Homo sapiens: one gene and its partner. The protein of the gene in region 1 purifies or fractionates together with the protein of each later gene. This does not show direct contact. Each region holds a gene or a part of one and is shown in the gene's direction. Other genes may lie near its edges. The genes, in order: MCUR1 and CPT2.

Evidence for each region.
Region 2: the proteins of MCUR1 (region 1) and CPT2 purify together in Homo sapiens (affinity purification with mass spectrometry; 2 studies listed by BioGRID and IntAct, with this or other methods). This does not show direct contact.

What each region holds. Positions count from the first base shown.
Region 1 is NC_000006.12:13,811,411-13,818,603, reverse strand, and holds the start of MCUR1 (mitochondrial calcium uniporter regulator 1), read left to right. Parts: upstream 1-4,046; 5' UTR 4,047-4,174; coding exon 4,175-4,589; coding exon of another isoform or gene 4,590-4,832; intron 4,833-7,193. UniProt on the Homo sapiens protein: Key regulator of mitochondrial calcium uniporter (MCU) required for calcium entry into mitochondrion. Plays a direct role in uniporter-mediated calcium uptake via a direct interaction with MCU.
Region 2 is NC_000001.11:53,206,824-53,214,100, forward strand, and holds part of CPT2 (carnitine O-palmitoyltransferase 2, mitochondrial isoform 1 precursor), read left to right. Parts: intron 1-3,191; coding exon 3,192-4,496; intron 4,497-6,440; coding exon 6,441-6,772; 3' UTR 6,773-7,277. UniProt on the Homo sapiens protein: Involved in the intramitochondrial synthesis of acylcarnitines from accumulated acyl-CoA metabolites.

The sequences.
Region 1 (7,193 bases):
AAGTTGACATTCCCCCATCAGTGTTTACTAGTAAGAGTATCAGTATGCTAAAGGTCACATCCAGGAATGTTCCAACTCCTTTGTTCTCTCTTTGACCTGCTTGCACCGGGGACAATGAGCCCTTGACCTTTCTGTTACTACCTGCTAAAACAGACCCAGTAGATCTTTCAGGGATAGCTCTGGCCATCTTCCATCTCTTTTCTCCTGATGACACCTAGAATATATAAGGCCACCTAAACTTCTCACAGATGGTGGCTAAGTCAGAGTCTGCTCTGTGAATCCAGCTTTACTCATGGGAGGTCCCTAAGTCTAGATACAGAGAGAGAGTAAGATGGCCCCACTTTGGCCCCAGATCCAAGTATATTCACCAATCCAACTTTGTCATAAAGTCCAACTTTGTCATGGTTCACATGGGGGTTGTCTGGCTCCTGCCTGATCCATTAATTAGTTGATACTTCTTCTTCTTCATTGGCCATTAGATTCCTGTATCTAGTCTCTCTATACATAGACAGAAGTCTAACATGTCTAGATTATCCTAATGTACACTAATGTATCCGGGATAGGAATCAGAAGCCCTATCCCAGCTGGTTTAAGTAAAAGCAACTTATTGGATTACATAAATAAAATGCCAATTTCAGCCTAAGCTAGAATCAGACGCTCAAAAGGACCCGTCTCTTCATTTCTCAGTCTTCTTTTCTTCATAAGGGCTTTAGTCTTAGGCCACATGGTAGCCCCAGGAGCTCATGGTTCAAATCATCCTATACCTAGACATCACAATAAAATAAGACGACCTCTTCCCAATAGTTCCTATTAAGAACCCTAGAATTGGGCCAGGCGTGGTGGCTCACACGTGTAATCCCAGCAATTTGGGAGGCTGAGGCAGGCAGGTCACTTGAGGTCAGGAGTTTGAGACTAGCCTGGCCAACATGGTGAAACCCCGTCTCTACTAAAAAATACAAAAATTAGCTGGGCATGGTGGTGCTTGCTTGTAATCCCAGTTACGTGGGAGGCTGAGACAGGAGAATCGCTTGAACCCAGGAGGTGGAGGTTGCAATGAGCCAAGATTGAGCCACCACACTCCAGCCTGGGCAACAGAGTGAGACTCCATCTCAAATAAACAAACAAAAAAAGAATCCTAGAATTGAAGCTTTTTTTTTTTAGATGGAATTTCACTCTTGTTGCCCAGGCTGGAGTGCAATGGTGCAATCTCAGCTCACCGCAACCTCCACCTCCTGGGTTCAAGCAGTCCTCCTGTCTCAGCCTCCCAAGTAGCGGGGATTACAGGCATGTGCCACCACACCCAGCTAATTTTGTATTTTTAGTAGAGACGGGGTTTCTCTAGACTGGTCTCCAACTCCCGACCTCAAGTGATCCGCCCTCCTTGGCCTCCCAAAGTGCTGGGATTACAGGCGTGAGCCACCGCGCCCGGCTGCTCATTAACTCTGATTGGGTGACATGCCCATGCCTGTGGTCTGCAGAGCGATCAGTCTCTCCAAACCGCATGGACTGAGAGCAGAGAAGAGCCACTGCCCATGGAAAACTAGGGTGCTGAGACCAAAAGAAAGGGAATGCTTTGGAAAATAAAACAACAGGTGTCACATCCAAGGAAAAGTGGATGCTATCCAACCTGTAGTTAGAACTGACATTCATTATACTCCTATCATAGGCCAGGCACTGTGCTAAGTGCTTTACATATGTTATTGTATTCAATATGGCTGGTAATAGTAATACATGAAAAGTTAGTCAACATCATTAGGCATCAGGGAAATGTTATGTTAAAAATCACAATAAGGTACCATTTTATGAGGACTGAAAATATCAAAATTTGGCAAGGATGTGGAACAACCGAAACGCTCATCTATTGCTAAGAGTGTGAAAGGGTGCAGTCGCTTTGGAAAAACAATTCAGCAGTGTCTAAAGTTAAGCTACCATATGATTCAGCAATTTGACCCAGATACTTTCCCCAACAGGGATAAAAATTATGTCCACACAAGGTCTTATACAAGAATGTTCATAACGCCCTATGCATAATAGCCAAAAACTATAAGCAAAGCAAATGGCCATTAATAGAATGGATGACCGCTTGTGGTATGGTCATACAATGGAATACTATTCAACAATTAAAAGCAACTAATTACTGATACAACAGCATGGATGAATCTCATTGATATTGAAGTCAGACGCAAAGCAGAAGAAAGACACAAGGCAATGCATATTGTAGGTCTCCATTTACATGAAGTTCAAAAAAAGACAAAACTAATCTATGGTCATTGAAATTTGAAAATAGTTGGCCGGGCGCGGTGGCTCACGCCTGTAATCCTAGCACGTTGGGAGGCCGAGGCGGGCAGATCACAAGGTGAGGAGTTCGAGACCAGCTTGGCCAATATGGTGAAACCCCGTCTCTACTAAAAATACAAAAATTAGCCAGGCGTGGTGGCAGACACCTGTAATCCCAGCTACTCAGGAGGCTGAGGCAGGAGAATTGCTTGAACCCGGGAGGCAGAGGACACAGTGAGCTGAGACTGCACCACTGCACTCCAGCCTGGGTGACAGAGCAAGACTCCGTCTCAAAAAAAAAAAGAGAAAATAGTTGCCTTGGGGTGGTGGTGGATTGTCTGGAAAACTGGCACAAAATAACTTTCTGGAGCAATGAAAATGTTCTAGATCTTGACTGGGTGGTATATACAACTGCTAAATGTCATCAAGTTGCTAAATGACATTTATCAACTGCTAAATGTCACCTAAGTCTGTGGAATTTACTGTATGCAAATTATACCTCAATTTTTAAAAATTACAAAGGACTAACATTAAAGTTTGTGCCACAGTTTAATCGTTCCTCTAATGTTGTGCACTATTTTCCCATTTTTTCACAATCACAAATTATGATACAATGACTATCTTTTGTGCATATGTGAAATTACCAATATTAAGCATTTTGACCCATAAAAATGACAAGTTTGTATAGTCAAACCTAGTAGATATTTAATATTTTGGATTATTCCCATTATCCCCATTTTTAGTTAGGTGACTTGAGAAAAGTTTACAAATTTTTGTTGATACTCATTGCTAAACTGCTTTTTCTACCAATTTTATAAATGTATACTCCTTTTACAAAAGTGTCTTAGGTTGGTGCAAAAGTAATTGCGGTTTTTGCCATTACTTGCAATGGCAAAAGCCGCAACTACTTTTGCACCAACCTATGACTTGAATCCTGTTTTTCAGTTCTTCAAATTTTGATAGACACTTATCTTGCACATCCATATGCACGCTCCTCTCTTCCCAGCACTTTGTACATCTCTCATGGCTCATAACACATTCTTCCATCACGTATGTGTACACATATGGCTGTATAGGAAAACAGCTTCTGGAGGATAAGAACAATTTGTTTTGCGGTTTTTTATTTTTAATAAAATCTCCTAGCTTGGTGCCTTATGCATTTCATTTATTTATTCAACTAACATCTTCCAAATTCACATAAGGGACCAGTTATCTGTGAATGGTGTAACAGGCCTTCAAAAAGTCCACGAAACTAAACATTACCAGTTTCAAATATACCCGACAGGTCTCATTTTAACATTCATGCCCCACGTTTTAAGTTCCCAGATTGCTACCTTCCCATGTTTTTGGTGCTCTAATCTGGAAACAAAAACTCTGAAAATTTAGTTTTGAATGTATTATGTGAGGGCCTTTCCCTGGGCCCTGCTAATAATTCCTTAAAATGCTCCCCAGAACCACATGTTTGGGGACTTAGGATAATCAGTGAAATCTAGGGCAGCCTGTCGGTCTGAGACTTTTCACAGGACTCTGAAGGGCACCGGGGTAATTCCTTTTTAAGGACAGCAGTGCAGTGAAAATGCAAATCGTGACAGCAACAAGCTCCTTCCAGTTCCGGAGTGCCCGCAGGCTCCTCCCGGTCGCCGCCGTCGCCTAGCGAATGGGGTGGGGGCTCGCACGGTCCCCGCATCTCGGAGCGCCACGGCGGGCTCCTGCCGCCCCGCCCCACCCCACCCCCGGCGCGCGTCCCGAGCCCCGCCCGCGCGCCCGGCAGGAAAGGGCGGTCCTGCGCTGTGGCCCACGCTCGCTCCCGCTGTCGGACTCTGGGCCTGGACCGCGCGTGGCCGGCGCCAAAAGCGAGAGGCATGAGCGCGCGCCCGGGCCAGTGAACTGCTCGGGGATGGACTGCGGCTCGGTCGGCGGCCAGAGGACCCAGCGCCTGCCCGGCCGCCAGCGGCTTCTCTTCTTGCCCGTGGGCCTCAGCGGAAGACCGGGCGGCAGCGAAACCTCAGCACGCCGCTGCCTCTCTGCGCTCTCCGACGGTCTGGGGGCGCTGCGCCCTCGCGCCCCGGCGGCCCGCGGCGGCGTGTCACGTGCCTCACCGCTGCTCCTCCTCCTGCTAGTGCCCTCCCCGCGCTTGGCCGCCGCAGCCCCGCGCCGGCAGCTCGGGGACTGGGAGCGCTCGCGCCTCGGGTATGCCGCACCCCCGGCCGGGCGCAGCAGCGCGTGGAGGTGCTCACCGGGCGTCGCCGCTGCCGCCGGCGCCCTTCCCCAGTACCACGGCCCGGCGCCTGCACTCGTTTCCTGCAGGAGAGGTGAGGCCCGGGCGGGAGAGGAGAGGGGGCTCGTCTCGCGGGGTTGGACGGCGGGGCGGGGATCTCAGCTACAGCCTCCCCGAGGAAAGGCCCGGCAGGCCGGAGGGCGGGTCCTCCAAGGCCACCGGCATCTGCCCGGAGCGTGGGTCGAAGGTCCGGGCCCGCCCTGCTCGGCCGCGGTGGCGGGGCTTAGCCCAGAAGAGACGAATTCCTGGGAATCCCGGGCGCTAAAGTTGGAGGGAGGTGCGTGCTGGGGCGGGGAGTTGGTGCCCGCCCACTCCTAGGGTCTGCTTTTGGGCGCCGCCTTCCAGGAGTTCTGTTTGGCAGCGCCCAGCCTGTTGGGCGTTCAAGGGGAAGGGGTGTGTATGTTTGAGCAGCAAAGCTCTGGGAAATGAAGGGATTGCTTTACAGTTTGATTTCAAATTCTGATGGAATCATTAATTCGTGGAGTCCTAGCGTCTGCCCTGTCCCTGGCGCTTTTCTAGATGTGTGAGATATATCAGTCCACAAAATCTTCCCTCTGGAGCTTAATTCTAGCAGAGCAGACGCAGTAAATATGTGTGTGTGGATATACGTATGCATAATTGATGTATATATAATTTATATATACAAATAATTTTTATATATTCGTAATTCGATGCCTGGTATAGAAAAATAGGATAAGGCTTGGGAAGTGGAATGGGTCTCCAGTTGTGAATTTAAATAGGGTGATCAGAATCGATTTCATTGAGAAGGTAGCATTTAATTAGAGTCATGCATCTCTTCAGGACAGTCGCCTACTGAGAAATGAGTCATTAGGCGACTTCTTCCTTGTGTGAATATTGTAGAGTGTGCTTACACAAACCTGGATGCTACAGCCTACTACACACCTAGACTATCAGGTAGAGGCTAGTGCTCCTAGGCTACAAACCTGAACAGCATGTTACCGTACTGAATACTAGAGGCAATCTGAACACAATGGTATTTGCGCATCTAAATGTAGAAAAGGTAGAGTAAAAATATGTATTATAGTCTCATAGACCACTGTCGTGTGTGCCCCTCTGTCCTGGGCTGAAAGGTAGTTGTGGGGCTCATGACTATTTAAAGGAGGTGAGAGAGATCACTGCCCTGGAGATGAGGAAAGTAAATAGAATCAATTTATTAGATAGCATATTGTTGATTAAAGAAAAAAATCATTTCTGATAATCAACAGACTTGGCAAAATTATCACTTTGGGCAGTCTATACATATTCATTAGTAGCCATCACTAACTACACATTTTTCATATTTTCTTCAACAGATAGGCCCACTAAATGTTGACCATATCTATAATTTAAGAATATCATTGGCTGGGGTAAAAACTGATTAGTAGAGCAATAAAGTGAAGGAAACTTTATATACAGAGAGTGGGGAATGAGTAGTGAACTCGGTGTCACTGTCCTTCAGTAATTAGGAGTCGGAGATGAGTTTGGTCTTTATTCTGTATTTTGCCTTTTGTTGCGCTTTTTCTGACAAGCTAGTAATTTCCAATTTGTTTTTCTCTCAATGCAAGAGTATAGGGCAAAAAGAGAGTGTTCTTTCTCACGGATTTGCTGACCAATCGGTAAGGTGGTACTGTTGTTTTAGTGTCAGCTATCTCATTCTTCAGTCATCATAAAAAATGAGTATGGATGCATAAAAACAGAAGAGAGCAGAGACACAGTTAAGGAAGCATGTATGCCCATTAACCAGCCAATGAGCGTTTCCCAACCATTTGTTTGCTTGGTGCCTGAGGTTCTCGGTTGAGCTACTTAAGGATGTCATGAGTAGGAAGTTTGTATTTGGTTTCCTCATCCTGTCCAAGGCTACCTTTGGGCCTCTATTGTAATTGTGGGTTTTTAATATTCTCTTGATATGCTGAAGGTCCCCAGAAAGGGGAATTGCATGTTACACGTTGACACAGCTCAGTTGGCTCGCTTCCTTATGATCAGTGAGGAGTCTGGGAGTTGGCGGTGTCCTCAGGTACTGCCCTTTGACAGAAGGCCAAGAGGGCATTTCCTTCCCTCATCAGGGGTTGGAGTGACCAATGGAAAGTGGCCAGCCCTTCTGTCGACCTTTCAGAGGCAGGATTTCTTGGAAATAAGCTTGCTGTTTCTGGTTCCAATCTTTTTGAAAAAGAACAACAATAACAAAAAAACTGTAGTATCCAAATTGGCGTTACAAAGTAGTCATGTGATTGTTTTGTTTATGTGGGGGTGGGGGTGAGGAGGTTATGTTTTAAATACATGAATGATTATTTTCTTACTAGAAACAAGGAATTTAGGTCTAGAGTAACCCTGTCACTCTTCACAAGTCATTCCAGACTCAGGTGTTTTCGAGCTCCCTGACACATGGGGCAGTCCAGTAGAGTTCTGGGGCAGGTGAGGTGGTCCTTAGGAGGTCCCCTGGAGAAGTGCTTTCATTCCTTCACTCCCACTGTTTCTCAGGCTAGGTCTCTTCTGTGTTGGGCAGACATCCTGGGTCTCTTCTCATGGAGGCCAGTTTTAGTCTCAGGACTGGAAATAAACTAAAAAAGAGGTACCAGATTTAAGTGAGCTCGTTTATGTGAAAAGGGAAGAACTGAGGAGAAAGGAATTCATCTCAAAT
Region 2 (7,277 bases), on another chromosome or scaffold:
GCTGGAATGAGTTAAGACTCTGGGGCACTGTTGGGAAGACATGGTTGTGTTTTGAAATGTTAGAAGTACATGAAATTTGGGAGAGGCCAGGGCAGAATGATGTGGTTTGGCTCTGTGTCTCCAACCAAATCTGATCTTGAATTGTAATAATCCCCAAGTGTCAAGGGAGGGACCTAGTGGGAGGTGATTGGATCATGGGGTAGTTTCCCCCATGCTTTTCTTGTGATAGTGAGTTCTCATGAGATCTGATGGTTTAAAAGTGTTTGGCAGTTCCTACTCCTTGCTTGTTCTCTCTCCTGCTGCTGTGTAAGATGTGCCTTGCTTCCCCTTTGCCTTCCACCATGATTGTAAGTTTCCTAAGGCCTTCCCAGCCATGCGGAACTAAGTCAGTTAAGCTTCTCTTCTTTATAAATTATCCAGTCTCAGGTAGTTCTTTATAGCAGTGTGAAAACAGACTAATACAGTGATCCAGCTAAACTGCTTCCCTGGGTTGCCCCTAATGGTAGTGTAGTTGGGTTAGCTTCCCTAGGGAGGCTTTTCCAGTAAACTGCCAAAAGGTTGCTAGTGTTGTAGAAGGCAGGGTAAGTAAGGGAAGAAGGTTTGAGATCTCAACTGTGATTCAGGTCTCCCAGTTTTATTTTATTTATTTATTTTTTGAGACAGAGTCTCATTTTGTCACCCAGGCTGGAGTGCAGTGGTGCGATCTCAGCTCACTGCAACCTCAGCCTCCTGGGTTCAAGTGATTCTCCTGCCTCAGCCTTCTGAGTAGCTGGGACTACAGGCACGTGCCACGACACCTGGCTAATTTTTTGTATTTTTAGCGGAGACGGTGTTTCACCATGTTAGCCAGGATGGTCTTGATCTCCTGACCTCATGATACACCCACCTCGCCCTCCCAAATTGCTGGGATTACCAGCATAAGCCACTGCACCCAGCCCCCAGTTTTATTATCTCCAGAGAGTAAAACTTAAGTCTTCTACAGGAGTGAGGAGGGAATCTCAGGTTGTGGTAGTGGTGATATAATTGAATAGTCCTTCAACCAGATGTATCTAGGTTGCCAATTACTGAGCCCTCTGGGGGTTCTGCTGTGCAAATCATATGATTTCTTGGCTTTCTCTCCTGCCAATTTAGGATTGGCTTTCTTGAGTCTGCTTTAGTCATTACCAGTTGCATAAGTGCTTTCCAGCTTCCAGTATTTGTTTTCTCGTCTCCCATTCTCTTGGCCTGACTGGTTTATGTCTCTTTGAAATTCTTTTGCTAAAGGGGGGTCAGAGGCATGAATTTATGTCTTCTTTCATCAAATATATCTTATCCACCAGTACTTTTCTCTCACCATTTTAGTGCATTGCGTTATGTTTTAATTATTTGCCTCCTTCACCAGAGTTTTTCAGAATCAAAGACCATGTCCTATTCCTCTCTAAATCCCCTGGACCAAGGCCTGGCACAGCACTGATTCTCAAGGGATGGAATGAGTGGATGGACCAACAAATGAGTAACAGAGAAATCTGCATCTATTAATCCTTTTCCCAGTGCTATACATATGAACATTATTTGCCTGAATGATAGTCCTTATTTATAGAGTTTATTCATGTTTACTAATCCCAGCAGGAACTTTCCCTGACATATTTTCTGATAAAATATTGCTTCTGGAATTTTTACAGGTAAAACATCTATAGGAACTCAGAGGGCTAGTCTGAGTGATCCATGCACTGATATTTATAATAGCTTTTTTAGTACTTTCTAAACAGGGAGTGTACAAATGTACACTGTACATAGAAGGACAATGAAGACGTTCCCCCCTTATCGGGGAGCAATCAAGTATGATTGTTGCCCCTGAAAGGAGATGAAGCAAGAGAAACCTAAAGAGATGGGGTGGGAATTAACTATTCTGTTCCAGCATGAATGCAAGTGGAGTGTTACCATATTTTATTCCTTTAAACCAAGAAAGGAAACAGAAGAGGAAGAAAAAGCAATTAATAAACATTAGGAAAATGCAAACCAAATCTGCAATGCTATACTACTTTACACCTACCAGAATATCTCCACGCCACAAGACATGTAACAAGTGCTGCTGAGGATGTGGAAAAATTGGAACCCTCACAGACAGCTCGTGGGAATGGTGCAGCCACTTTGGAAAACATCCTGGCAGTTCCTCAAAGGTTAAACAGAGACTTACCATGTGATAGTAGTTCCACTCCTAGCTATGTCCATACAAAAACATGTATAAGAATGTTCATAACAACATAATTCTTAATAGCTAGGTGCAGTGGCTCACACCTGTAATCCCAGCACTTTAAGAGGCTGAGGTGAGAGGATTACTTGAGGCCAGGAGCTTGAAACCAGCCTGAGCAACATAATAAGACCCCATCTCTACCAAAAATAAAAAAATTAGCCAGGCTGGTGGTGTGCATCTGTAGTCCTAGCTACTTGGGAGGCTGAGGTGGGAGGATCGCTTGAGCCCAGGGTTCAAGGCTGCAGTGAGCCATGATCATACCACTGCAATCCAGCCTGGATGATAGAAATCCTGTGTCTCTTAAAAAAAAAAAAGGCAATGTAATTCATAATAAAGAGTGGAAACAGTTCAAATGTCCATTACCTGATGAGTGGATAAACAAAATATAGTATATCCATATAATGGAACATTGTTCAGCGCTAAGAAGAAATGAAGAACTTAAATGCTACAACATGGATGAACCTTAAAAACATTATTAGGAGGCCGAGGCGGGTGGATCACCTGAGGTCAGGAGTTTGAGACCAGCCTGCCCAACATGGTGAAACCCTGTCTCTACTAAAAATCCAAAAATTATCTGGGCATGGTGGAGGACGCCTGTAATCCCAGCTACTCAGGAGGCTGAGGCAGGAGAATCGCTTCAATCCGGGAGGCGGAGGTTGCAGTGAGCCGAGATTGCAGCACTGTTCTCCAGCCTGGGCGACAGGAGCGAGCCTCCGTCCCAAAAAAACAAAACAAAAACATTATTGTAAGTGATAGAAGCTAAATGCAAAACACCATATATTGTATGACCCCATTTGTATGTCTTGAATTATTGCAGAGCAAAAACATTCAGGGAATTCTTCTCTCTGGAGGTTGATGCCATTTCCTTTGTCTATGCTTGAATTTTTTTTCTTCTTCAAATTTTATTTTTAGGGACAGCATTAACATTTTATGTTATTTTTTTCTTTTTATTTTTTAGGACCCTGGTTTGATATGTACCTATCTGCTCGAGACTCCGTTGTTCTGAACTTTAATCCATTTATGGCTTTCAATCCTGACCCAAAATCTGAGTATAATGACCAGCTCACCCGGGCAACCAACATGACTGTTTCTGCCATCCGGTTTCTGAAGACACTCCGGGCTGGCCTTCTGGAGCCAGAAGTGTTCCACTTGAACCCTGCAAAAAGTGACACTATCACCTTCAAGAGACTCATACGCTTTGTGCCTTCCTCTCTGTCCTGGTATGGGGCCTACCTGGTCAATGCGTATCCCCTGGATATGTCCCAGTATTTTCGGCTTTTCAACTCAACTCGTTTACCCAAACCCAGTCGGGATGAACTCTTCACTGATGACAAGGCCAGACACCTCCTGGTCCTAAGGAAAGGAAATTTTTATATCTTTGATGTCCTGGATCAAGATGGGAACATTGTGAGCCCCTCGGAAATCCAGGCACATCTGAAGTACATTCTCTCAGACAGCAGCCCCGCCCCCGAGTTTCCCCTGGCATACCTGACCAGTGAGAACCGAGACATCTGGGCAGAGCTCAGGCAGAAGCTGATGAGTAGTGGCAATGAGGAGAGCCTGAGGAAAGTGGACTCGGCAGTGTTCTGTCTCTGCCTAGATGACTTCCCCATTAAGGACCTTGTCCACTTGTCCCACAATATGCTGCATGGGGATGGCACAAACCGCTGGTTTGATAAATCCTTTAACCTCATTATCGCCAAGGATGGCTCTACTGCCGTCCACTTTGAGCACTCTTGGGGTGATGGTGTGGCAGTGCTCAGATTTTTTAATGAAGTATTTAAAGACAGCACTCAGACCCCTGCCGTCACTCCACAGAGCCAGCCAGCTACCACTGACTCTACTGTCACGGTGCAGAAACTCAACTTCGAGCTGACTGATGCCTTAAAGACTGGCATCACAGCTGCTAAGGAAAAGTTTGATGCCACCATGAAAACCCTCACTATTGACTGCGTCCAGTTTCAGAGAGGAGGCAAAGAATTCCTGAAGAAGCAAAAGCTGAGCCCTGACGCAGTTGCCCAGCTGGCATTCCAGATGGCCTTCCTGCGGCAGTACGGGCAGACAGTGGCCACCTACGAGTCCTGTAGCACTGCCGCATTCAAGCACGGCCGCACTGAGACCATCCGCCCGGCCTCCGTCTATACAAAGAGGTGCTCTGAGGCCTTTGTCAGGGAGCCCTCCAGGCACAGTGCTGGTGAGCTTCAGCAGATGATGGTTGAGTGCTCCAAGTACCATGGCCAGCTGACCAAAGAAGCAGCAATGGGTGAGGCAGGGGTGGGGAGCATGCCCTTGGGTCTTGTCCTCAGTGCTTGGGTAAGCAAGCCTAAATCATTCTACTCCAAATCTGATTTCTACCCGTTCACTAGGTTTAATCCATCGCCAACTCCCCAAATTTTTCTTTTCTACCCTAGCAGTCTGAACAGCCACACTAGCCACTAGGGATCAGAATGTTCTTGCCTCCTAAGCAGGGGTGGGGAAATGCATGTGTCTTTGTCCTCATTTAAGGTCACTTTCAGCTGTGACGCATTAATTCTTTTTTCTTTCTTTTTTTTTTTTTTTTTTGGAGACAAGAGTTTCCCTCCGTCCAGGCTGGAGTGCAATGGCGTGATCTCGGCTCACTGCAACCTCCACCCCCAGGTTCAAGTGATTCTCCTGCCTCTGCCTCCCAAGTAGCTGGGATAATAGGCACCCGCCACTACACCTGGCTAGTTTTTGCATTTTTAGTAAAGAAGGGGTTTTGCCATTTTGGCCAGGCTGGTCTTGAACTCCTGACCTCAGGTGATCCATCCCTCTCAGCCTCCCAAAGTTCTAGGAATACAGGCGTGAGCCACCGCACCTGGCCTTTTTTTTTTTGGAGACACGGTCTCATTCTGTCACCCAGGCTGGAGTACAGTGGTGCAATCATGGCTCACTGCAACCTCAACTTCCTTGGCTCAAACAATCCTCCTGCCTCAGCCTCCCAAATAGCTGGGACTATAGGCATGCACCACCATGCCCAGCTGATATTTTAATTTTTTTTTTTTTTTGAGATGGACTCTTGCTCTGTTGCCCAGGCTGGAGTGCAGTGGCACAATCTCAGCTCACTGCAACCTCTGCCTCCTGGGTTCAAGCGATTCTCCTGCCTCAGCCTCCTGAGTAGTTGGGACTACAGGCTTATGCCACCATGCCCAGCTAATTTTTATATTTTCAATAGAGACGGGGTTTCACTATGTTGGCCAGGTTGGTCTCAAACTCCTGACCTCATGATCTACCCGCCTCACCCTCCCAAAGTGCTGGGATTATAGGCGTAAGCCACCATGCCGGGCCTAATTTTTAAAATTTTTTGTAGAGATGAGGTCCCACTGTATTGCCCAAGGTGGTCTCAAACTCCTGGGCTCAAGCAATCCTCCTGCCTTGGCCTCCCAAAGCACTAGGATTATAGGCATGCACCACTGCACCCAACCTTTTTCTATTACTGATTGGTTATCAGACTCACTTTTGAAAATTTAGGATTTCTAAACTTACGGCCCCACTAGCTTCACCTCAGTTGTAATGTGTCTGCTCTCTGTAAACAGGTTATCTCAGAAGCTCTTCTCAATTGTCATCCGTCATTACCTTTTTTTGATAAAATTCAAGACCTGGAAAGGACCTGGAGGGTCATAGTTGTCCTTTCATGTTGCTATGAAGTGCTGGAAGTGAAAGGGACCTCCAAGACATTCTAATCTTCTCTTCCTCCATTTTATAGGGAGAAAACCAAGCCACTGGCCCCGTTACACAGCAAGTTAGTAGTAAGACTGAGATTCGAACCCTGGTCAAACAGACTTTCCATTTTGTTCCACTGACTCAATCTTCTCTTTTACACTTGAATCAGACTTTTAGTTTTATTGTAGTTTTTGAGTCCATAGCTGTCTTCCTGTACTGTCTTGACTCTTTGACTAAACTGATTTCACATCTTTAAAATTATGCTTTCCTTTTAGGCTCATTTTTAGCTCAGCTGTTGACAGCTATTTTTAAATGTAACATGACATAATATATTTCCTAAATAATTTAAAATAATCTAGCTTGAGCTGCTCTGAAGGTTAGTCAGTTGGTGGTGTGCATAGAGGTAGAGCCTTCCCCCACTCTCAAGGATGCTGTGAGGGGTATTCCTACCATGTGGTGAGTTGGGAGGTTTTCCTGAGGTCCTTTTCCATCCTGAGACTCTGGTTTTCCATTTTGTTTCTCACAGGCCAGGGCTTTGACCGACACTTGTTTGCTCTGCGGCATCTGGCAGCAGCCAAAGGGATCATCTTGCCTGAGCTCTACCTGGACCCTGCATACGGGCAGATAAACCACAATGTCCTGTCCACGAGCACACTGAGCAGCCCAGCAGTGAACCTTGGGGGCTTTGCCCCTGTGGTCTCTGATGGCTTTGGTGTTGGGTATGCTGTTCATGACAACTGGATAGGCTGCAATGTCTCTTCCTACCCAGGCCGCAATGCCCGGGAGTTTCTCCAATGTGTGGAGAAGGCCTTAGAAGACATGTTTGATGCCTTAGAAGGCAAATCCATCAAAAGTTAACTTCTGGGCAGATGAAAAGCTACCATCACTTCCTCATCATGAAAACTGGGAGGCCGGGCATGGTGGCTCATGCCTGTAATCCCAGCATTTTGAGAGGCTGAGGCGGGTGGATCACTTGAGGTCAGGAGTTTGAGACCAACCTGGCCAACATGGTGAAACCTTGTCTCTACTAAAAATACAAAAATTAGCTGGGTGTGGTGGCATGTGCCTATAATCCCAGCTACTTGGGAGGTTGAAGCAGAATTGCTTGAACCCAGGAGGTGGAGGTTGCAGTGAGCTGAGATCACACCACTGCACTCCGGCCTGGGCGACAGAGCGAGACTGTCTCAAAAAAACAAAAAAGAAAAAAAAACTGGGGCCTGTGTAGCCAGTGGGTGCTATTCTGTGAAACTAATCATAAGCTGCCTAGGCAGCCAGCTACAGGCTTGAGCTTTAAATTCATGGTTTTAAAGCTAAACGTAATTTCCACTTGGGACTAGATCACAACTGAAGATAACAAGAGATT